Homo sapiens: one gene and its partners. The protein of the gene in region 3 interacts with the protein of the main gene of each other region in a pairwise test. Each region holds a gene or a part of one and is shown on either strand. Other genes may lie near its edges.

Evidence for each region.
Region 1: the proteins of ZBTB8A (region 3) and SYT6 interact in binary tests that used the Homo sapiens proteins (3 or more experiments, as listed by UniProt).
Region 2: the proteins of ZBTB8A (region 3) and CWF19L2 interact in binary tests that used the Homo sapiens proteins (3 or more experiments, as listed by UniProt).
Region 4: the proteins of ZBTB8A (region 3) and ZBTB49 interact in binary tests that used the Homo sapiens proteins (3 or more experiments, as listed by UniProt).
Region 5: the proteins of ZBTB8A (region 3) and ZNF329 interact in binary tests that used the Homo sapiens proteins (3 or more experiments, as listed by UniProt).
Region 6: the proteins of ZBTB8A (region 3) and FAM161A interact in binary tests that used the Homo sapiens proteins (3 or more experiments, as listed by UniProt).
Region 7: the proteins of ZBTB8A (region 3) and ZBTB17 interact in binary tests that used the Homo sapiens proteins (3 or more experiments, as listed by UniProt).

The regions. Positions count from the first base shown.
Region 1 is NC_000001.11:114,088,792-114,091,830, reverse strand, and holds the end of SYT6 (synaptotagmin-6), read left to right. Parts: 3' UTR 1-2,539; downstream 2,540-3,039.
Region 2 is NC_000011.10:107,444,326-107,447,825, reverse strand, and holds part of CWF19L2 (CWF19-like protein 2), read left to right. Parts: intron 1-3,500.
Region 3 is NC_000001.11:32,545,927-32,549,426, forward strand, and holds part of ZBTB8A (zinc finger and BTB domain-containing protein 8A), read left to right. Parts: intron 1-3,500. UniProt on the Homo sapiens protein: May be involved in transcriptional regulation.
Region 4 is NC_000004.12:4,303,751-4,307,250, forward strand, and holds part of ZBTB49 (zinc finger and BTB domain-containing protein 49), read left to right. Parts: intron 1-2,387; coding exon 2,388-2,434; intron 2,435-3,500. UniProt on the Homo sapiens protein: Transcription factor. Inhibits cell proliferation by activating either CDKN1A/p21 transcription or RB1 transcription.
Region 5 is NC_000019.10:58,126,790-58,130,289, reverse strand, and holds part of ZNF329 (zinc finger protein 329), read left to right. Parts: intron 1-178; exon of another isoform or gene 179-352; intron 353-778; coding exon of another isoform or gene 779-786; coding exon 787-2,412; 3' UTR 2,413-3,500. UniProt on the Homo sapiens protein: May be involved in transcriptional regulation.
Region 6 is NC_000002.12:61,840,561-61,844,060, reverse strand, and holds part of FAM161A (protein FAM161A), read left to right. Parts: intron 1-1,700; coding exon 1,701-1,939; intron 1,940-3,479; coding exon 3,480-3,500. UniProt on the Homo sapiens protein: Involved in ciliogenesis.
Region 7 is NC_000001.11:15,948,602-15,952,101, forward strand, and holds part of ZBTB17 (zinc finger and BTB domain-containing protein 17), read right to left. Parts: intron 1,762-3,500; exon of another isoform or gene 1,330-1,761; intron 1-1,329. UniProt on the Homo sapiens protein: Transcription factor that can function as an activator or repressor depending on its binding partners, and by targeting negative regulators of cell cycle progression.

The DNA of each region.
Region 1 (3,039 bases), about 82 Mb from region 3:
TTAGTCTTTTGTGTCTCCCAAGGTGATGTTTTTGTGGTTTTTCACTTTTTATGGGTCTGCTGGTAAGAAAAGGGAAAAAAAAAAAGAGTAGGAAAAGACAAAGGGTGGAAAGCCCAGAAGTTGGTTCTAGAAAATACAAGGTACAGTTTTTTGGAAAGAGGTGGATTGAGTTTCTGAAATGCTGCGTCTCCAGCAAGCTCCACAACCCTGGAAAAGGAGGAGGCGTGGTGGGACTGCGGCTGCATTTTCAGTGCCCTGCAGGAATGGGGTGAATCCATGGAAGAGCCTTTGTGAGGTGAATTACTAGTCTTTGAAGCTCTTCGCTGGCAGGACATAAACCACGCTGGGACCCTCAGTCCCGTGTTGAAATCACAAGACCTCTGAGGCGCTTGTGAGCCTTCAGCTGATGTGCAGGGTTCCTCGCTCCCCTTCCTCGCTGGCTTTCCCCATGAATTGAAAACGTCTTGATTCCTCATGGGAACTTAGTCACTTTCTTTAGGAATGATTCAGTTCAGCCGAAACTAAACACGCCATATGTTTTCTGATGCGCCACAGTTAATGATCACATTTGTTTGAAAACAGGATCTTTGTCCTCAGAAATAATCTTGATTGTAAAGTAAGAGAGAAACATATGTTCTGGAATGATTTCTGCATTATACATAGCTTTATAATTCCATGAAGTATCAAGCTGCTGTTTAAAATGCCTAAACAGATTAAAGAAAAACCTAGATTAAATGTTCTTTTCCAAATGGGGAGTTTTGAAATCCAAATAGCAGTTTGAGTCCATCTTTCTATGAAGAGTATGTTTTTGATTGAAACCGAGTCAGCGTAAGCCTATTTCAGCCCCTTTGGCTCTTTGACAATATTCATCTTAAACTTTAGTTCTATAAATTACTAAGTACTTCAGTGTTGTTTGTTTCAGTGGTTGTGAGGGTTTCTTGTTTCCTTTAGATCTTTACCTTAGGCCAAACTCAGTTTAGGAAAAAAAAAATTGTTTGAACTATTCTGTGTTGTAATAGCACATTTCTGTTGAGTTAATAGTGGTCTTCCCACCAACCCCTAAAACCAGGTTGATTTGCTCAATCTCAGTTTGTATAACCCCAGTAAGCGCATGGAGGTGAGTTTCTACTTCGACTTGTGGCGACACAGTGCCAGTTTCCTGAGCTGTGTGTACTACTTGCAAGAGGCAAGTCTGCTGAAGAACCCCTTCTTTTAACAGTGGAAAATCAAGAACAGAAAATCTGTTCACACACCTGTGTCTTATTCTTTATATATGCTACATGGTAGAGGAGCAGCGACCAATAAAGTATCCCTCATTTTAAACCAAGTTGTCAGATTTCTCTGCTGATAGAACGCTGCATAGTATCTTCTAGCCCTAAAAATGACCAGGTTGGGCATGAGTTAACAGGATATTGTGGCAAAAGGAATTTTCTGCTTAGAAAAGTAAATGTAGATAAACCTAAACTCCACCCTGTACTGAGCCTTAGGCTAGGGACTCATGTGTAAAGATGACTTTTCTCCCCAGATATCTTGTCATTGACAGGCCTTCCTAGTCTGGTAGTCCTACATTTGGGTGTTCTCCTGAGAGTGAGAAAAAACCCAAGGTCATGACAAGATTCCTGGCAGGTGACAGACTTCATTATGATTCTGACTCTAGACTGACCCCATCAAGATAGTCGTTTCCGTCAGTGAACAGATGCTGAAGGCCTTGCCATTACAAAGGAGACAACTGAGTTCCCTGGGTCATAAGGAGTCCAGAAATTAGTGTGAGAAGGTCCTTCTGGAAGTGAACTCAAAATTCATGTCCAGCTGTCATCGTTAAACCCTTAGGCAGGTGAGTATAACCCATTCTAACCTCTTGGAGAAGGGAGTGTGATCAATGTGAATCACAATAGTATTGCTCATCTGAGACATTCCTCTTATATCCAAGCAGCTATCTCCCATGAGTGAACATCCCAGTGGTTTCAGAAAATCATGTCCTGAACAGATTCTAGCCAGCCCCACACCACCCTGGCCAACTGCAACCGCTGCTGCTCTAGCAGTCTGGGTCAATTCCTACAGGCTTGGGAGCCCACCCCAGGGAGGCTTTTATCTCCTGCAGCCTCATCCCCAGCACCCTCAAGGTAGACTACTCCTCAGCCTGAATCATGAATGAAACCTGAACATCTGCCAACTTCATTATCTAGCCCAGTATCTCTTCCCTCACAGAGAAGAAGAAAATGAAATACAAAGTTGATCCATTTGTTGGCTTTCTCTGGCCGGAGAAACCTCTCGGGTTGTTGCTGTGAGCTTTGATGAAGTTGTGATAACCAGGGCCATTTGCACATAGGTTTTTTTAAAAAACATGAAAAGTTCCCTTCTCCTTTATTTAGCAGTGTTTCCGGGCTGAAAGACGCCCTCCTCCCCCTCTGCGCTTACCCAGGACGTTAATTAATTGCACTGTCATTTAAAATATTATGTTGTTAATTACTCGTTTGTGTCTTCCCACCCGTGTCACAGCCTGGAGTTTTTATTCAATTAAATCTCTGTCTCTTGCCCATTTCTCTTGTCATTTTATGTTCCTGGGGTTTAGCAGTCAACACACGCACAGGACATCTCAAAGCTTTTCTTCTCAATCTTTGCTTCACATGGATAACCACTTCCCTTCTATCAGAGGTAGAGCAGAACGGCTTGTTTGTTTTTTGTTCTGTCCAAGGAATACCTGTGTACCTCATCAGGCTGGAATCCACCTGTGTTTTGTCAGGCTTGTGGCTCGGAGATCATTTGGCGCACAGGGCTCCGCTGTTCCCTCAGCTGTTCAGCTCAACAAGCAACCCCTGCAGATGCTGAAGCTCCCCTAGGGAAGTGGGCCACACACATCTGGGAAGTACGATGCTGTCACCCACCAGTAGAGAATCCTGCTAACCATCGTAAAACACAATTTGGCAAAGCCATGGGAAAATACTATTGCAGCCTCAACATTTTTTTTTAAAAAAAGAACATTCTAATGTAATAGAATATCTCTCTGCTCGCCTGCAGCTTTTAATTAATTTAGAGAGC
Region 2 (3,500 bases), on a different chromosome or scaffold from region 3:
TTAAATGATTTTTCTCTTGAATATGGGTCACATTTGCTTGCTTCTTTGAATGTCTAGTAACTTTTAATTGGATGCTGAACCCTATGAAACTTATATTGTGACTGCTGGATTTTGTTGACTTCTTCAGAGAGTATTGAGTTTCCTTTTGGCATACAGTTAATTACTTGTGAATTAGCTTAATCCTTTTCAAGGATTGTTTTTAAGTTTTGTTCGTATGCACCTAGAATAGCTTTACTCTAGGACTGGTTTAGCCTTTCTACTAAGGCATGACCTTTGTGGGTTCTCTGCTGATTGTCATGGATGTTCAGCGAGGTTTCTTTATTCTGGTTGGGAGGAACTAGAATGTCTTCCAGCCCTTTGTGAGCTCTGGGGATTGTTCTGCTTACAGCTCTTTGGTAATTGTTTTCTCCATGGTAATTTTTCTTTGCCTGACCTTGTGGACTCTCATCCTCAGCATGTTCAGCTTGGTCTTTCTTTAAAGACTCCAGGGGTCCTTTAAGTAGATTTCTGGCACCCTTTCTCTGTGTAACTTCCCATCTGTACTTTTGTTTCAGCCTTCACAAAGTTCAAATTCCGTTTCCTTTGCTCAGTGAGATTTTCATGTTCTGCTTGGGTTACCCCTCTATGCCACAGTCTAGAAAGTGCCTTTAGATAAAAAGCTGTAGAGATTGTAGTTTCATTTTTATTCCAATTTGTATGTATTTCTAGTTTGATGCCATTTATTTTGTCAAGGACAGAAGCAGAAGTCCTCAAGATCCCTTGAGTTTTGCTGGTAGCACTTTTCTGTCTTAGTTCCACCTTCTAGGTTTTGACCACTAGATAGAATTAGAGGTGTGGTTAATTCTGCAGGCTGCACAAGAGAAGGAGAGCCCTGAAGGCTGTGTTAGGTCAGGAGGCGTATTAAGCTTGATAGTTAATGAGTTCAAGGTAAAATGGAGATTGAAACTAAAATTAGCAAGAGAACTGAAGTCGTAGCATGGGGAGCATCAATTTTGCTGAAGTGGTAAGGTGAGTGAGTGCATAATTGTGAAAATGAGTATAGGTTGCTGCTTAAAAGTTTCTGACTAGTGCTATTGAAAGAGTAGAAAAAGACATTTCATTTAATTTCAGCTTGCATTTATCAAATGCTTATTCTTTGCCAGACACTGTTCTAGACATGGGGAATATAAAAATATATTTTTAAACCTTTGGGGAACTCATTTCCTAATTGGATAAATAGATACATAATATTAATAATATGATTTTGTAGTAGATTTTGTAGAAGAAGATGTTGGCTTTATTTTCTGTTGTTACTGAGTTTAGCATACCATCCAACATGATGCCATGGTAGTACAGGGTATTAAGAGGGATTTCATTTGCTAACTTGTTGATTAAATGATGCTTGAATTGAGACTAGATAGATTAGTAAGCATTAGGCAAATAAAGGTGTGCTTGGCATTTCATGCATAAGGAATTGCGAGAGCAGAGACATGGAAGTATGAGATAATATGAGTGTGAGTATGTGTGTATGTATGTAAATATAACTATAAGCAATTTGATAGTACTAAATTATAAAACAAGAGGAGGGGGTGAATGGAGATGAAACTGTAAGAATTAATAGGGCCTTGTAAACCAAGAGCTTTGACTTTATTCAGTAGGGAATGTATCATCTAATTGGGTTCAGCTGCATTTATTAGAAAATCTCAGAATAGCCATTGATTATACAAGATAGAAATTCATTTTTTTCTGATATGAAATAAGTCAGGTAGACAGTCTAGGGCTAGTATGGTCTTCTGGGACCTAGGCTTCTATTGTCTTGCTTTTCCATCATCCTTACAGCATTGCCTCTTAGTCCAGATAACAGGAAAGAAGATGCTCTTTTTTTTCTTAACTTGACTTCCAGAAAGTCCCATAAAATACTTTTGTTTACATCTAATTGGACACTTGATCATAAGGCTTCACTTTCTAGCATGGGAAGTACATTACTTCTCCAAATAAAATGGGATTCTGTTGGTAGGAAAGAAGAGGGATAACTAGCAGTCTTTGTAATGGGAAGCCCTAGAAGAGAAGTACGGTGGTCAGATGTTCCCTTTATATTACTCTAAATGTATTTGGGGTGAGGGGTTGGAGAAAGAAGGGGAGCAGGAAAGATGAGTCCAGGAGATTAATTAGGTCTCCTGGAATCAGTTGTTTAGGTGAGAGATAAGATCTGATCTAGGGCTACTACTTTTTTTTTTTTTTTAAGGCGGAGTTTTGCTCTTGTCCCCCAGGCTGGAGTGCAATGGCACGATCTTGGCTCACCACAACCCCCGCCTCCCGGGTTCAAGATACTCTCCTTCCTCAGCCTCTCAAGTAGGTGGGAGTACAGGCATGCGCCACCACATCTGGCTAATTTTTGTATTTTTAGTAGAGATGGGGTTTCACCATCTTGGCCAGGCTGGTCTCGAACTCCTGACCTCATGATCCACCCGCCTCGGCCTCCCAAAGTGTTGGGATTACAGGCGTGAGCCACCGCGCCCAGCCTGGGGTGCTACTTTAAGGATCAAAGAAGAGAATATTAGTTGGTATTTTGGTTGCAGGTAACAGAAACTAAATATAAATTGGATTTTGCAAAAAGGATTTATTATTAAAGTACAAAATTCTCATAAGACATATAGATGTAGGAATGCAGCTAGGCTTCAAGAATAGCTGGAATTAGAATTGTGAATGGTTTTTGCAATTTTCTTGCCATTTTTCATTTCCCCTACCCTGAGTTCTAGTTTTTAAAAAATTTTTGCTGATTTCTATTTCTCATGACAGAAATGGCCTCTCCCAATGCCTTCCCATTTCTTAGTTTTAGATAAGCCCATTTAGACCTGATTTCAGATTCCTGTGGAATGGCTCAGGTTGATGTGAATTGGGTCAGGTACCTACGTTTGAACTAATCAGTAGTGGCCAGGGATAGAGGTAGGCTCGTATGGTAATCATGTATTCACTCTATGGTATATTTAATAAATATTTTAAAAATGAAAATGGTAGGCTTGAATATGTGAGGTAACATCATCCTGAGTTTCTGACTTGGTTTAAGTGGGTGGTTGGTTGTTCCAGATAACTCAGTTCAATACTATACAAGGAGAAGTAGATTTTGTAGAAGAAGAGGATAGCTTTATCTTCTGTTCTTACTGAGTTTAGCATGCCATCCAACTGCAGTAGACAATTAGTCAGTGAAACTTTGGTTAGACAAATTTGAAAGATATCAGCACAATTTATTGTAGTTCAGGCGATCAGAATGGATTTAATGGCCCAAAGGGAATGTTTAGACATTGAAAAATGTCATGGGCAAAGAATGGAATCCCAAATAACAAGATATTTAAGGGCTAAGCAAAGGAGGAAGAGTTCATGAAGGAAATGGAGAAGAAACAGAGTGGGAGGAGAGCTGAGAGGTGTCATGGAAGCCAGGAAAGTGAGTTATCAACAGAGTTGCATTAAGCAGAGAGGTCTAGAGAGCTGAAGACTGAAACGTTTTGTTGAGTTCGGCACAG
Region 3 (3,500 bases):
GTCACTTTGTCTAGAAGTCTCTTCTCTTCCTGTCTCTTCTCTGACTCTCTCTCTCTCCTACTAGACAGTGAGCTGCTTGAAAGTGAGCACTGACCTTTGACATTTCATCACCTCTATATTCTCAGGACCAGGTATAGTCTGGTATAGAGTAGTTGCTCAATAAATATGTCTTGAATAAAATGCGTTTCACCTGCCAATTTGAGTATCTGCCCTTCTCATAAAAATAGAGTAAAAGGGCCACATACAGTGGCTCACACGTGTAATCCCAGCACTTTGGGAGGCCAAGGCGGGCAGATCACTTGAGGCCAGGAGTTTGAGACCAGCCTGGCCAACATGGCGAAACCCTGTCTCTGTTAAAAATATAATAATTAGCCAGGTGTGGTGGTGCGTGCCTGTAATCCCAGCTACTCAGGAGGCTGAGGCATGAGAATCACTTGAACCCAGGAGTGGCAGGTTGCAGTGAGCCAAGATCATGCCACTGCACTCCAGCCTGGGTAACAGAGTGAGACTCTGTCTCAAAAAAAAAAATAAATAAATAAATAAAAGATTTTTCTGTTAAAATATAGAAAGAGCCAGACATGGTGGTACACTGTTATAGTCCCACCTATGTGGGAGACTGAAGCAGGATCACTTGAGCCCCGGAGGCCAAGGCTGCAGTGAGCCAAGATCGTACCACTGCACTCCAGGCTGGTGGGACCTTGTCTCAAGAATTTAAAAAAGGAAAATATACTTCTGTGGAGTTCAGAACAATGTAAAATTAATGATTGTATCAAAAGATGAAGTTGTTTTCTTTCGGCTGTTTTTCTGACCCTTCAGAAAACCTCCATTGCTTTGAATCCTGTGGCTCTCAGCAGCATGTGAAACACGGAGGGCATAGCGGATGCCTTATATCACCTTCAGTTCCCTCTGTCTCCCTGGCGCTGTTGGACTAGGTCCAACATAAAATTCTTACAGTTCCAGAATATCTGGGGGAAGTTTTTTGTTTTTGTTTTTGAGACAGGGTCTTGCCCTGTTGCCCAGGCTGGAGTGCAGTGGCACAATCACAGCTCACTGCAGCCTCAGCCTCTCAGGCTCAAGTGATCCTCCCACCTCAGCCTACTGAGTAGCTGGGACCACAGGCATATACTACCACACACCTGGCTAATTTTTTAATTATTTGTAGAGATGAGGTCTCGCCATGTTGCCCAGGCTGGTCTCGAACTCCTGGGCTCAAGTGATCCTCCTGCCTGGGCCTTCCAAAGTGCTAGGATTATAGATATGAGCTACCATGCCCGGCTGGGGGAAGTTTTATTCCAAAATCTGCAATGTATTTTTCATCACCAGAAGATACCTCAGCAAACCAAACTAAGCCATAATTTTATCCATGACTTTTTAAATATATACATTAGAGTAGTATTCTAAGTATAAACAAATTTTCTTTTCTTTCTTTTTTTTTTTTTTTAGTAGAGATGGAGTCTTGCCCTGTTGCCCAGGCTAGAGTGCAGTGGCATGAGCATTGCTCACTGCAGCCTCGAACTCCTGGGCTCAAGGGATCTTCCCTCCTGCCTTAGCCTCCTGAGTAGCTGGGACTACAGGTTCGAGCCACTGTACTCAGCAACATTAAAACATAAACTTTTAGGTTGCAAATCTTATTTTAGGTTATAGATCTCATTCTCAGGCCACTGCACTCCAGCCTGAGTGACAGAGCAAGTCTGTATCTCAAAAAAAAAAAAAAAAAGAAAGAAAAAAAGGCAAAAATGGTTTCTCAAGAATAATTTGGCACACACTTGTATTCAGAAGGCTGAGGTGGGAGGATCACCTGAGCCCGGGGAGGTCAAGGCTGCAGTGAGCTGTGATCTCACCACTGCACTCCAGCCTGAGCAACAGAGAAAGATTCTGTCTAAAACAAAAAACAAACAAAGCAAAAAAAAAAAAAAAAAAAAAAAGACCAGGCGCAGTGGCTCACACTTGTAATCCCAGCACTTTGGGAGGCCGAGGCAGGTGGATCATGAGGTCAGGAGTTCGAGACCAGCCTGGTCAAAACAGTGAAACCCCCATCTCTACTAAAAATGCAAGAATTAGCTGGGCATGGTGGCCGGCACCTGTAATCCCAGCTACTTAGGAGGCTGAGACAGTAGAATCACTTGAACCCGGGAGGTAGAGGTTGCAGTGAGCCGAGATTGCACCACTGCACTCCAGCTTGGGCGACAGAGCTAGACTCCGTCTCAAATTAAAAAAAAAAAAAAAAAAAAAAAAAGAATAATCCTTCCTTAAGGTGAGGTCTGCAATTGACTAGTTGGAGTCGAGGGTTGCTATTCCCAGGTACACATGTAGTTTTGAAATGATCGCTCTCACTCTCTCTAGGTACATGAATATGATGAAACCAGTCAAAAAACATTTTTTTTTTCTGTATCCACATTTTTTGTTTTTGTTTTTGTTTTTGTTTTGAGACAGAGTCTCACTCAGCCGCCCAGGCTGGAGTGGAGTGGTGCAATCTCGGCTCACTGCAACCACCGTCTCCAGGGTTCAAGCGATTCTCCCGTCTCAGCCTCCTAAGTAGCTGGGATTACAGGCACCCGCCATCATGCCCGGCTAATTTTTGTATTTTAGTAGAGATGGGGTTTTGCCATGTTGGCCAGGCTGGTCTTGAACTCCTGACCTCAGGTGATAAACCCGCCTCAGCTTCCCAAAGTGCTAGGATTACAGGCGTGAGCCTCCTTTCTGTATCCCCATTTGTATAAGACAAGAAAATGTGTGGCAATAAAACTCTAAAATGTTTACATTTTGTACTCATTGAAAGCAGTGTTTTTAAATGTTTAGATAATTAATAATAATAATAATAGCTGACATTTATCAAGGGCTTGTTATAAGCCAGGCACTGTTATAAGCACGTTTCTTGGATTAGCTTCTAATATTCTCCATCTCGCAGCTCTGTAAGCTATAGGTATTATTATTGTCCCTGTATTAGTCCATGCTCTCATTGATAAAAAGAAATACCTGGCCGGGGCCAGGCACCGTGGCTCATGCCTGTAATCCCAGCACTTTGGGAGGCTGAGGCAGGCCGATCATGAGGTCAGGAGTTTGAGACCAGCCTAGCCAATATGGTGAAACTTCATCTCTACTGAAAATACAAAAATTAGCCGGGTATGGTGGCCCGCACCTGTAGTCCTAGCTACTCCAGAGGCAGAGACAGAATCGCTTGAACCCGGGAGGCAGAGGTTGCCATGAGCCGAGATCACGTCACTGCACTGCAACCTGGAGGGCAGAGTCAGACTCTGTCTCAAAACAAAACAAAACAAAACACCTCGCTGGGTGCTGTGGCTCATGCCTGTAATCCCAGCACTTTGGGAGGCCGAGGCGGGCGGATCACCTGAGGTCAGTAGTTCGAGACCAGCCTGGTCAACATGGTGAAACCCTGTCTCTACTAAAAATATAAAAATTAGCCACGCATGGTGGGATGTTCCTGTAATCCCGGCTACTTGGGGGGCTGAGGCAGGAGAATCGCTTGAACCCAAGAGGTA
Region 4 (3,500 bases), on a different chromosome or scaffold from region 3:
TCTCTCTCTCTGTGTGTGTGTCTCTCTCTCTCTCTATATATATATCTCCACACACACACATTATGTTATACAATACATATATATTACTTTTCTTCCTATAATTAAACATGAGTTTAATAGCACATTACAGATGAACAACAATTACCTTATAGGCATGAGAAGTAACATGCAACAGGATGCTTCCACAGCAGCTGCTTTTACGGTGTTTGTGTAATTGTGTTTGTTGATGTGACCTTCTGTTATCACTATGGATTCACAGTTTGCATTTTACGACCTTGTATTATTGGGAGATTTCTTTGATAATTGTGAAGGCCCTTTATACATTTTAGTGCATTTGAATATAAAGTACTGTTATTATCACTAGTAGTTCAAAATTATTCCACGTGAAGGCAATATCACAGACTTAGTTTTGCCCTGAAAAAACTTTAGATGATTCTGTTTGCCTAAATCTCCTACAGCCTAATGATTACTGCAATTTTTTTTTTTTTTTTTTGAGACAGAGTTTCGCTCTGTTGCCCAGACTGGAGTGCAGTGGCACAATCTCGGCTCACTGCAACCTCTGCCTCCTGGGTTCAATTGATTCTCCTGCCTGAGCCTCCCGAGTAGCTGGGACTACAGGCATGCGCCACCAATTTTTTTGTATTTTTAGTAGAGACAGGGTTTCACCATGTTGGTCAGGCTCATCTTGAACTCCTAACCTCAAGTGATCTGCCCACCTCGGCCTCCCAAAGTGCTGGGATTACAGGCATGAGCCACAACGCTTGGCCCGATGGCTGTAATTTTTTATTGTGAAACTTACCTGCTTAGCTTTTAAAGGAATCAAAAATTGTTTATTCTGGGAGAACCTCTTTGAATGACAGATACAGTCATGGCAAAGATGCTTACTGGCACATAAATATTCTACCGAGAAGGGCAGCAATTCTCAAAGTATGGTCTGGGGAACCCTTTTTGGGGGTCTGTGAGGCCAACACTATTTTCAAAATTGTCTAAGATGTTAGTTGTTTTTTCCTCCTCTTATGAGTGTACAGTTAGTCTGCCCAAAGCTACATGATGTGTGATGAAGTCCTCACCCTGGTGGCCTGTGAAGTGTGTATTTACCTGTTCTAAAGGTCACTCTGTTTTCATTTCCAGTATGGTAGATATCAATAGCTATAGCCCATATTAACAAAAGCTCTTTAGGACCTCAATTTTAAGGTGAAGGGGTCCTGAGGCCAAAAAGTCTGAGGCCTACTGGAGTAGGATTGTTAACCTTGGTCATTTATTAGTCTTAGTAACTGGTGACCTCTCTCTCTTTTCAAATTCTTATATTTCTTATGGGGGCTTTAACTTATTATCTGTCACCCCCAATAATTTCAGACATAAATGTAGTTTCATTTATTGCAATACAGAATTAATGTAATTATTAATTTATTATTAATATAAATATAATTATTCAGGGTCAAGGAAGCCATTAGACATTTTCAGGATAAAATAAAATTAAAATATCCTAGAATGAGCCCAGAAAGCTAGCAAGCTGCTTTCTTCAAGGTAGCAAGCCCCAACGATATAGTAGGAAGGGAAAACATTATTGTTACTTTTTAAAGAAGATCTTAATGAAACCATTTGATTTCAGGGAAATGGAGAAAATGAGAGGTTCTTAGTGTTCAAAGTCTATTCATTAGCGTTATATAGATTAAAGGCAGTACCATGGAGTGTGCTTTTAAATTCAGATCATGTTCTGTAGGCCACATTTCAGAACAGCTGTGGTTTTTTTGTAGTAGAGTACCATTCTTAGAATCTGTTCTGTCCCCAAGCGCAGTTACTTAGTTATTGAAATTAGAGGTGATAAAGAAGTCCGCAGAGGAGCACATCTCCCAAAATGAAATCTTACTTTCTCTCGTGAGAACCAAGGCAGGAAGACTGTGGTGAGGGGCTCTTTCCTTTTCACACTCATGCTTCAGGACGACCCACTGTGTTTGGGGCTCTCTGTGCTCATACCTTGTGTGGTGTGAACCAGTGACCCTGTGTCTGTTAGGATTGGTGGTTGGGTGGCATCAGGCTGAAGAATAGGTGAGCGGGATCGTGCTGTTCAGCAGGAAAACTCAACCACAGGAAAAGACCACTTCCAGAACGTGGGTCTGCTCTGGATGCAAATAAATACATTGATTTTAACATAAGTTTTGTTTGGAGAACAGTTTAAGTTTTTAGAGGAAAATATTACTTTTATCATCTCTGTGTAGAAATAAAGGCAAGAGAGAAATATAAGGAAGTAGACACTCCCTATTTTCATACTGTTAGGATGCAGAATGTAATGCCATTTTGAAAGTACATAGGAGGTCATTTAAACAAAAAATTATTGAACAAATACTAGTAATGATTTTACAAGTTGTTGTTTTGTTTTGTTTTAGGTGAGAAACCTTTTGAATGTAACATTTGTGGGAAACATTTCTCTCAGGTGGGAATACTCTTATTTATTGTTAATAATTGGAAACCTGCAACACAGTGTTTTTTTATTGGAAATAAGACATACTTTTGTACTTGTGAGAGAAGCCTCTAATGATGTCTGTAACTTAAAGACTTCAGAATAAATTAGGATAAATCGTTTTCAAGAAAACAGATTTCTAGTTCTTTGAGAGAAAAATAGCATTTTCATGTGTGAATTCTTACAATACTTTTTTCGCCTTGCTAAGGATGAGTCCAAACTTAGCATATGTCTTCCGTTTCATGAATGAAGTTCACAGTGAACCACCTTGAGCTTGGCGTACCTGGAGGCTGCACATTGTGCTGGGTTAGGCTGAAGACAACTAGGTCTCCTCATTCTTGTTGGGACTGTAGATTGTAGGATGTTGGAAAAAAAGATGAAACAAGTTTTGTTCCCTGTGTTGACTGCTACCTTTAGCTGACCTCCATTAAGGTCATTTGGACACATAGGCATTCAGTCCTTGAGGAAACGTTTGTTTTACCCTCCCATGGGCCAGGTGCTGTGCTGGGCATGGGACACAAAGAAACCTAGAGACCTAATGTTTTCTAGAAAATGGCTTGTGGGAACCTATTCTTTCTGAAACAGAAGGTAACTATTCACCGCCATGTGCAGTGCCCTGGGCTTCCAGAGGTAGATCAGATGGAAGCTGCTCCAGGGCGTGAGGGCGCAGCTCTTCAGGGCACAGTCACTGGCACGACTGTCTCACACAGCATGGTAGATCCTGTGGCAGCAGTGCATGCCTCTGGAGCTGGGAGGCAGGCCCCGCAGAGCTTGGAAATGGCAAGCGCCGTGTTTGCTCGCATTCCCCCTAGAGCAGACTCTTCCAGTTTCTCTTCATCTGTTGAGGGTGTCAGTTCCATTTGCTCACACACCCAAACCTGCCATCTTAATGACTCTTCACCCTCCCACTCTCTGAGTCCCTGCCTGCTGGGATTCACCAAGTCCTCGCCGTCTCTCATCGCGTACTCGGTCGGGTCATGTCCTCCTGAGCACTTCATTTCTCTGGGCCTGGGGCCATGTCTTCTCTCCCATCCAGGAG
Region 5 (3,500 bases), on a different chromosome or scaffold from region 3:
GTGCAGTGGTGTGATCTCAGCTCACTGCAACCTCTGCCTACCAGGTTGAAGTGATTCTCCTGCCTCAGCCTCCAGAGTAGCTGGGACTACAGGCATGTGCCACCACGCCTGGCTGATTTTTTTTGTATTTTTAGTAGAGACGGTGTTTCACCATGTTGGTCAGGCTGGTCTTGAACTCCTGACTTCAAATGATCCACCTGCCTCCACTTCCCAAAGTGCTGGGATTACAGGAGTGAACCACTGTGCCCCGCCAGGTCATTGACAGTTCTAAGACTTAGACCCAGAACTTTTAGGTCACCAAGCCTGTGCTTTGTCCTATCCATGAATGCAGAACTTTGATGACAGAGCTGGGGTGAGAACTGTTCCTTCAGTGCTGTTGTAAGCTCATTGTGAAGTCAGAGCTTTGGAAATGTGTACTGATGGGCAGTGTGTGACAGGGACAAGAATGCAGTGGCTGGGATGGAATTCTAGGGGGAGCAGGGATGCTTGGCCTCTGGTCTCTCACATCTCAAACTAATCCTTTTGGTGATGATTTATCCCGAGGTCCATTCCTCCTGCCTGCTCTCTAGGAAGATGAAAATGCTACATGGCTCTTTTTGAATCTGTTCTTGGTTCCATTCCTTGGCTACGATTTTACCTCTTCCTTGTATAAATTTGAATTTAAAAGAGAAAACAAGTAAAAAAATACACATCTTTACACCTAGCCCATCATCATTGTCTGTTTCTCTTACAGATAAAGCTTCATATACCTAAGTCTGCATTTTTCTTCTTTTTGCAGTTTGGGATATGAGATTGAAAATGACGACTCGGAATTTTCCTGAGAGAGAAGTACCCTGTGATGTAGAAGTGGAAAGATTCACAAGGGAAGTTCCCTGCTTGTCCAGTTTAGGTGATGGTTGGGACTGTGAGAACCAGGAGGGACACTTGAGGCAATCAGCTTTAACTCTGGAGAAACCAGGGACTCAGGAAGCAATTTGTGAATATCCTGGTTTTGGGGAGCATTTGATTGCAAGCTCAGACCTTCCACCGTCTCAGAGAGTTCTGGCAACAAATGGTTTCCATGCACCTGACTCAAATGTTAGTGGTCTGGATTGTGACCCCGCCTTACCCAGCTATCCTAAAAGTTATGCAGATAAGAGAACTGGTGACAGTGATGCCTGTGGAAAAGGCTTCAACCATTCCATGGAAGTTATTCATGGAAGAAATCCAGTGAGAGAGAAGCCCTACAAATACCCTGAAAGTGTTAAGTCTTTTAATCATTTTACCTCTCTTGGTCATCAGAAAATAATGAAAAGAGGCAAGAAATCGTATGAAGGTAAGAATTTTGAGAACATCTTTACTCTGAGCTCATCGCTTAATGAAAACCAGAGAAATCTCCCTGGAGAGAAACAATATAGATGTACTGAATGTGGCAAATGCTTCAAACGGAACTCTTCTCTTGTTTTGCATCACCGAACTCACACCGGAGAGAAGCCTTATACTTGTAATGAGTGTGGAAAGTCCTTCTCCAAGAACTACAACCTGATTGTGCATCAAAGAATCCACACAGGAGAGAAGCCCTATGAATGCAGTAAATGTGGGAAAGCTTTCAGTGATGGCTCAGCTCTGACACAGCACCAGAGAATTCACACAGGCGAGAAACCTTATGAATGCCTAGAGTGTGGAAAAACCTTCAACCGAAATTCATCCTTAATTTTGCACCAAAGAACTCATACAGGGGAAAAACCATATAGATGTAACGAATGTGGGAAACCCTTCACTGACATCTCCCACCTTACAGTGCATCTCAGAATCCACACCGGTGAGAAGCCCTATGAGTGTAGCAAATGTGGAAAGGCTTTCCGGGACGGCTCGTACCTCACCCAGCATGAGAGGACTCACACTGGAGAAAAGCCCTTTGAGTGTGCAGAGTGCGGGAAATCCTTCAACAGAAACTCTCACCTCATTGTGCATCAAAAGATCCATTCTGGGGAGAAACCCTATGAATGTAAAGAATGTGGCAAGACTTTCATCGAGAGTGCGTACCTCATCAGGCATCAGAGGATTCATACTGGCGAGAAGCCCTATGGCTGCAACCAGTGTCAGAAACTTTTCAGGAATATCGCTGGCCTCATTAGGCACCAGAGGACTCATACTGGTGAGAAGCCCTATGAGTGTAATCAGTGTGGCAAAGCCTTCAGGGACAGCTCCTGTCTGACCAAGCACCAGAGAATTCACACTAAGGAGACCCCATATCAGTGTCCAGAATGTGGGAAGTCCTTCAAGCAGAACTCTCACCTGGCAGTACATCAGAGACTCCATAGCAGGGAGGGTCCCAGCCGGTGTCCTCAGTGTGGAAAAATGTTCCAAAAGAGCTCATCCCTTGTTCGACATCAAAGAGCACACCTGGGAGAGCAACCCATGGAAACATAATGGTTGGGGGCCACATGAGTCTTCCAGTTCACTCTCACTCCTGTGTTTAGGAGGCGTGTCTTAGATCTGACTCCTCTCTGGTCAGTAGAAAAGAATCCTTTAAGCTATCCAGTGAATTGATGAATGTGAGACATTGCTGAGCCACACTGTTAAGTCTGCTCATTGGGGAACTCCAGAGACAACTTAGGATGAGGGCAGAAAAGTCTTTGGGGATGATTCAGTCTGTACCAGACATGACAACACACACACTGGAATGAAATGTGCAAACATGGGGGTGACACCACAGAGAGAACCTGTGAATGCATTCAGAACATGATTGGAATGAAGAGCCCTGTAGTAGGGAGTTTCCACCTTGTACGTAAGCAAACACTGAATCAACTTTTTTTTTTTTTTCGGACAGAGTCTCACTGTGCAGTGGCATGATCTCCACTCACAGCAACCTCTGCCTCCCAGGTTCAAGCAGTTCTCCTGCCTCAGCCTCCAAAGTAGCTAGGATTACAGGTGCCTGCCACCATGCCTGGCTAATTTTTTCTATTTTTAGTAGAGACAGGGTTTCACTGTGTTGGCCAGGCTGGTCTTGAACTCCTGACCTCATGATCCGCCCACCTCAGCCTCCCAAAGTGTTGGGATTACAGGCATGAGACACTGCCTGGCCTGAATCAACCTTTTTTAAGTGTAATCAGAAAGAGAGGCTTTGGCAGGGGCTCTTACTGTGTTTTCTGTAACAACAAAGGTGTACAATGAGAGAGTCCACACAGTGCTGTACTGCACACACCACAGAATGTGTGAGATTTTCCTGTTTGAATGTATGTCTGCATTATACTCCTGCAATAATGCTGAGGACTCGTTGCAGGAGGGCAAACTAGGTGAATAAATTACCTGTGAATGAACAATGAAGTCGTTCCTCTTAAGACTGAAACAAGCAGGCCAGATGTGGTGGCTCACGCCTGTAATCCTAGCACTTTGGGAGGCCGAGGCGGCCAGATCACAAGGTTAGGAGTTCAAGACCAGCCTGGCCAGCATGGTGAAACCCCATCTCTACCAAAAATACAGGAAATTATCTGGGCATAGTAGTGTGTGCCTGTAAT
Region 6 (3,500 bases), on a different chromosome or scaffold from region 3:
CGCCATTCTCCTGCTGCAGCCTCCCGAGTAGCTGGGAATATAGGTGCCCGCCAGCACACCTGGCTAATTTTTTGTATTTTTAGTAGAGATGGGGTTTTGCCATGTTAGCCAGGATTGTCTCAATCTCCTGACCTCGTGATCCACCTGCCTCGGCCTCCCAAAGTGCTGGGATTATAGGCGTGAGCCACCGTGCCCGGCCTCTGAAGACTGATTTTTTAAAAGTTGTTTTCTTTAAGTTACCCCAAGTAGTACAACATTGTCCTCTTGTATGCTGATTTTAGCGTATTAAAAAAAATACCATATCTTCTGAGAAGCCTCCAGTGGGAAACAAAAATACCACATCTATAACTACTATTTATAATTGACTCTTCTGAATTTTTATTTTGAGAGAAGCTAAACAGATTATTTTCTAGAGTCTTATCAGATTGGATCTATAATTTTCTGTAGCAAATTTTTTCATTTTGCATCTGTTCCAGACAGTAGGCTAAATTTAAAACTGTGGTTGGCAGCCTTTTATGCATAGTATCATAAATAATTTCAACTGTTTCTCAACTGAGAACATAATAAAAATTTTATATTTATGGAGAAAATGGGGTTTTATCTCTTTAGTTGCTTCAATTAAAAGAACTGAAAGGGTAGGGCACGGTGGCTCATGCCCATAATCCCAGCACTTTGAGAGGCCGAGGCGAGTAGATCACCTGAGGTCAAGAATTCAAGACCAGTCTGGCCAACATGGTGAAACCCCGTCTCTACTAAAATACAAAAATTAGCTGGGTGTGGTGGTGTGCGCCTGTAATCCCAGCTACTTGGGAGTCTGAGGCAGGAGAAGGCAGAGGTTGCAGTGAGCTGAGATGGTGCCACTGCACTCCAGCCTGAGTGACAGAGTGAGACTCCGTCTCGTAAAAACAAACAAACAAACAAAAAAACTGAAAGGTATGTAAAGGGAGTGAGGGAGAAAGGCCAGTCAGACCCTTCTAAACATGATCTGTATGTTGAATAATTACAGCATTTTTTCTTCTTTGCTTTGTTGTCATCCTAAAGTCCCGGTCACCCATGGGAGCTACTGCTTTTGTGCCCACAGAAGCAGCTACCCTGAAAGTCCCTCCTACCCCCTCCCATGTCCTCTTACTCCCTCCCAAAGTCTTGCCCCACTGTGAGGAGGGCTTCTCCCTGGCTCCTTGATAAGCCACTGAGAACTTTGTCCCTGCCCCCATTTCCTCTATTTCCCTGCCTTCTCTCCACTGGCAGTCCTTGGAGCCACACTGCAGGAGCGCAGCTGGAGGGAGAGCATTGGGCTGTGGTTGCCTGGTTTACAGCAGGTAGAACCGTGTTCCTCTTCATCTCAGTTAAAACTTACAACTCAGGAGGCTCCTTATAGAAATACTTTGTAAAGGGTTGTTGGGTTCTATCCTATTATACCTTTTGTTGGTTGATCTGGGAATTGAACCATCCTTTATCAAATGGATTAAATAACATTTATTTTCTGACAGTTTGGTCTTGCTCCCTCTCGTTCTTAAAATATCACTGGGGAAAATGTACATAGCCCACAAATAACCTATAACTCATTCTATATGCATAGCCCATAATTAATGTATAACCTAACTAGGTGGACTCTTTAAGAAGCAGCATTTTGGATCAGTGTCAGCTTAATTTGTCTTTCAGCTCCAGTCACTATATATCAAGTGTTTTCTCCCCACCAGGCTGATTTGAACACCAGCTTTTCTGGGGTGGATGAACATGCACCGATAAGCTATGAGGACTTTGTGAACTTTCCTGATATTCACCACTCTAATGAGGAGTATTTCAAGAAAGTAGAAGAGTTGAAGGCTGCCCACATAGAAACTATGGCAAAATTAGAGAAAATGTACCAGGATAAATTACATTTAAAGGAAGTTCAGCCAGTGGTCATCAGAGAAGACTCTCTTAGTGACTCTTCCAGGTAAGCTTGTAACTCAATGTTATTTGTGGAGTATAAAATAAAATGTATCCTTAAAAGGACAGAACAAAGTTACTTCATAATATTTTCTCTTAAATAGCCCTTTGTACTCCCAACGATATACAGAGGTAGGATTTTATTCAAAATGTTTAATGGCTTATCAGCTTACTGGATGACCGTTTGCTTGAGGGTCATTTGGTGGCCATTTGGTCTTTTCTTTCTGACCCACCCATAGAACTGAGGGCATGTATCAAAATACTTAGTCTGTGCCATTTTAACTGGTAAATATAAAAGTTTAATTTTAAAAGCTCTTTATAATATGTGGATTAACATGAGCTCATTAAAGATCTAGTACAAAGAGTTCAGGACTAGGAGACATGAATCTGATTTATGTTTTCAAAATAGTCTGCAATTTCAAGACCCATTTCTGCTGTGAACTCACCTGCTCTGAGACTTACACATCTAGTCAGTCAGCGATGCTTGCATGTCTCCTTTGTGCCAGACTATGCCTGGGCGCTGAGGAGTCAAAAACAAGATGCCCTCAAGGAGCTTAGAGACTAGCTGAGAACCAAAAATTGCATTACAGCATGATGTAACAGAGTGTTACAGAGGAAGAAGCAGTTGGTCATGCCAAGCTTTCAGAGGGATGCAGGCCAGAATTTTCCACTAAAGTGTCACATCTGAGTTCAGTCTTGGAGGAGGAATAAGTATTGGCCTTCTAGGCAGCAGAAACCATGTATGCAAAGGCAAGATGGCATGAGAAATCATATCGTGTGTGAGGAACTTCACAGGACTGGATATGAATGCAGAATGGAGACTGGGGTAGCCAGTGGTGAGGGGTAAGACTGAAAAGATAGGCGCCAGTCTCGAAGGGCTTGTAATCTAGGCTTGACTTCGTAGCAGTGAGGAATTATCAAAAAGTTTCAAGCAGGGGAATGACATGATCAGATCTATGCTTCAGGACAGTGACTCTGGAAAGTGGGGAGAATTTAATAGAGGTTAGACACAAGGACCCTCTGCCATCTCAGGTTCCTTCCCTGTAAAATGAAGGAGTCAAAGTGGATAATTTATGGGCATTGCCCAGCTCTATTCCAAATAAAAGTGATGATTCTTACAAGCCCTGTCCAGCTCCTCGCTTCTGATTATACCCTGATCTTAGAAAATATGTAACTCTTGGCTGGGCACAGTGGCTCATGCCTGTAATCTCAGCACTTTGGGAGGCGGAGGCAGGCAGATCACGAGGTCAGGAGATTGAGACCATCCTGGGTAACTTGGTAAAACCCTGTCTCTACTAAAAATGCAGAAAATTAGCTGAGCATGGTGGCACAAGCCTGTAGTCCCAGCTACTCGGGAGGCTGAGACAGGAGAATTGCTTGAACCTGGGAGGTGGAGGTTGCAGTGAGCCGATATCACACCACTGCACTCCAACCTGGGCAACAGAGTGAGACTCTGTCTCAGAAAAAAAAAGAAAATATGTAACTCTTAATTTTTATATTTGGTCACATACAACTGAAAGTATAACATAGTTATTCTTCTCATTTAGATCTGTATCAGAAAAGAACTC
Region 7 (3,500 bases), about 17 Mb from region 3:
TTAAAACAAGTGAGGGCATTTCTGCCACAAAAGGGCAGTTCAGTCCAGATACCCCCTGCAAGCCAAACTCAACCAACTGGTGGCTCCTGTATTCCTGGGTTTACTGTCCAGGAAAAGTGGCCCAAACCAAAAAGCACTGGGGCACCAACACGAGGCAGCCGCCTCCGTATTCAGCCTGATAATAACATGAAAAAGCCAAAAAAGGGAACAAATACAGAACACTGAAATGTGTCATCATTTCAAAAATGAAACGACATGGTCACTTTAACATTTGTTACAAAAAGAATGCATGACAATCTCAGAATAAAGGACAGATGTTTCAATTGGACATGTTGGTCTTTAAGAAAACTTTCCTATTTTCTCATTCTCTCATGGACAGGTGAAGACAAGACGGTGTTTCATCAGCCAGTGTTGCAGAACTCGGCCCCTCTCAGGCTCTGCACGTACCCCATCCCCCGACAAAGCCTAGCTCTCCCTCTCTTTCTGATTCATGGGAACTACCTAGAGTTGCGGAGTCTTCTGACTCCAGAAACCTGTGTCCTGGTGGCCATCCCAGGAGAAACAACTTTGATCCTGACCCCAAGAGCTGCTGACCTGGCCACAACTTCTCTGTCAAGGGCCTCACTTAATGCCTGGAAATCCCACAAGTGAAAATGCTCAGGAAAATTCCATGGCCCAGTGCCGAGCAGTCTTGAACCGCACAAGCCGTGACTAAGTAACTATCTAAAACAGCTCTCCCTCCCGCCCCAACACCACCCAGAGTGGGCGTCAACATCAGCAATTGTCTAGGGAAAATAAGCGGGCCCTCTTTTCTAGAAAGAACCCATTTCAGAATGTTTGAAGAGAAAAATCAACACCCACTGTCTGGGGCCACATTAGACAGATTCAACTGGGCACGGCTGTCACGCCCTGGCCCAGGATCTGCTAAGGGGTAGTGAGTTCTCTGCCTACTCCTCCTCTTCTCTGAGGCCTGAGTCTGCACGGGGCTGGCTCCCCGGCTTCTGGGCAGGTGAGAGGGACACTTTGGGGCTCTCCGCCCCCAGTTTCGGCAGCTCTGCCCCGGCTCAGGCACTCCCCTGTGACATCAGCATCTTGGGGGGTGAATCACTGCCGCAGCTCTGAAGCTGCTGTGGCCATGCATGGCTGTCGGGCTGTGATGAGTCCGGAGGAAGCCACGCCCCTCACACCAGCACAGGTCGGCCTTGAAGGGCGCCAAGGCCTCCCACCACGTGATGTCTGGAAACTTTTCACAAGTGGGGGTATCTGCTGAGCGGGGGGAAGTGACGCAACAAATAACGGGGAGCATGGCAGTGGCAACAGGCATGAGCCACAGCGCACCAGCCTCCGAGCCACAAGTTCAGCGTTGCTGCTGCTGCCAGAGGCCCAGAAACAGCTGTTCCCTCCCCCTACACATCCCCGCGCAGGCTTTGGCTCTCTCAATGACATTCCTAAATGGCTGTGGCTAGAGCCCTAAGTGTAAGCACTGGAGAGCCAGGGCCAGCCCCGAAATCAGGAGGTAAGGCCCTGGGGCAGCTGGCCCCGCACCAAGTGCACCAAGTGGCTGGCAGCAGCACACGGCCACCTGGAGCAAAGCACAGAGGCCTTTCTCTCCTGTCCTCAGTCCCTGGAAGCAGCAGGTTCCTATCTGTGACCTGAAGGAACGCAAGGGAGAATCGTGGCTGCGCTGCTCCTATGCACTGGACATGGGGAGGCACCAATGTCCAGCTTGTGGATCAAGACCTGAAGGGCACAAAGGGCAAGGTGGGTGCAGAAGGAACCAAAGGCAGGGGCGAGGTGGGCCCAGGCCACGGCAACCCTAGAGCTGTCTTCTCCTGGCTGTGGAAAAGGTCACGTGAGCACACAGGTGTGTGGGTGGCAAGCCCTGGGCCTCAATTGCTAGTCACCCCCTACATACCCAGGAGCCCCAAGTGCAGAAGAGGGGAATACCAGGGCCCACACAGGGCAAAATCCTCAACTGGCTTCAGAAGCAGCCCATCTGGAACTTGCAAGTGAGGCCCAACCCTTCTCTCCAGGCTGTGTGCCTGGCTTCCTCACCTTCCCCAGGAGCCAACCCGAAACTTGAGCCACCCAGGTGCTAAAACAACCTGGGGAGCATCAGCTGAACCCCCAGAGGTACAAAGAACCCTCTAGCAGGAAAACCATCTGACTTGCCGGGAAGAGACATGTGAGGAGACTCCTAGCCAAGGGGAGGGACAGGATCAATCCCCTTGTGTGGGCCCAAGGCTGGGATGAGCCTCCCTGTGGCCATGTGCCCTGGGGCTTCCTGGCAAGCGCAGCCCCGCCCAGCCATACAGCTGTCCTGGGACTGGATGGATGGATGGATGGGTAAGCTAGATAGATTAGATAAGACACATTCGCTAGATAATAAAATAGTAAAGGCCCCAAGGACAGGGTGGGTGGTGGCCCAGCCCCCCACATACCACCACCCGCCAAGAGAGCAGCTGTGTGCCCATGAGCAACATTTTCCACCGTGCTGACTGCACTTTTCCAATGCAAGATGCCCGCCCAGAAGTGGGCTCCTCCCACACACGGGTGTTAGGAGGAGAAACAGAGGCGTCTATAATCCTCTGAGGCTGCCCCAGCAGAGAAACGCACCAAAAGGGAAGAAAACAGGAGAAATGATAAGAAGGGGGGAGGAAGAAGTGAAGATGGGCAAAGTAAGGGAAGGAAAGGAGAGAGAAGAAGGAAGGAAGGAAGGGAGAGAGGGAGGGAGGGAGGGGCCCTGTACCCACAGAGAGATCAGCAGCAGCTGAAATGCGCTTACCAGTACAATCTGGGACTGGCCTCCCAGGGGTGCAAGAGCAGCTCGAGGGGGCCAGGAGGGGGCGGACTAAGTGCTAAATGGTGTTACCCGCAGAACTGTGTCACTGTGGACTTTACAACCGAAGCCCCACCCTCACAGGGCAAGTGGAGCTCAGGGTCCCCCAGGCTGTTCCCCAGCCGGGAAGCTTTAACAGCCCCTCTCTCAAGGCCCGTGGCGAGACGGAGGCATGGCCGGCTGGGTCCTTCCCTCTGAGGGGCTGAGCTAGAACTAGGCAGTCCCCCACCTCCAACCCACGTGAACTGCTCTGGAGGGATCACCAGCCTGTATCCTAGTTCCCCTCTTATCTATTCCTCAGCGACAGGAACCCAGCAGGACGGCCAGGCTTGGAGGGACATAGGAAAAGGGTTTGGGAGCGAAGGGGTGTGCAGGTCCTAGGAACATATCCCCTCCTAAGTACGTGCTAGGAGGTGCTGTCTGGGGAGACGTTAACCACAGTAATCAGATCAACAGCCAGCTGCTCCCCATCGCCCCCAGATGTGCGGGAACACAGGGTGAAGAAATACTGTTCCCACCAGGCAGCCTGCCCCACCCCACCCTTGGAATACGGTGCCCATCGCTCAAGCACAAGTGTCAAGGTCTGTGGTCTTGTCTTCACCTTGCGTGATGGGCGATAAATATGTGCACTAGTTAAAGCAACTTCTAAGGAAGATCCTAA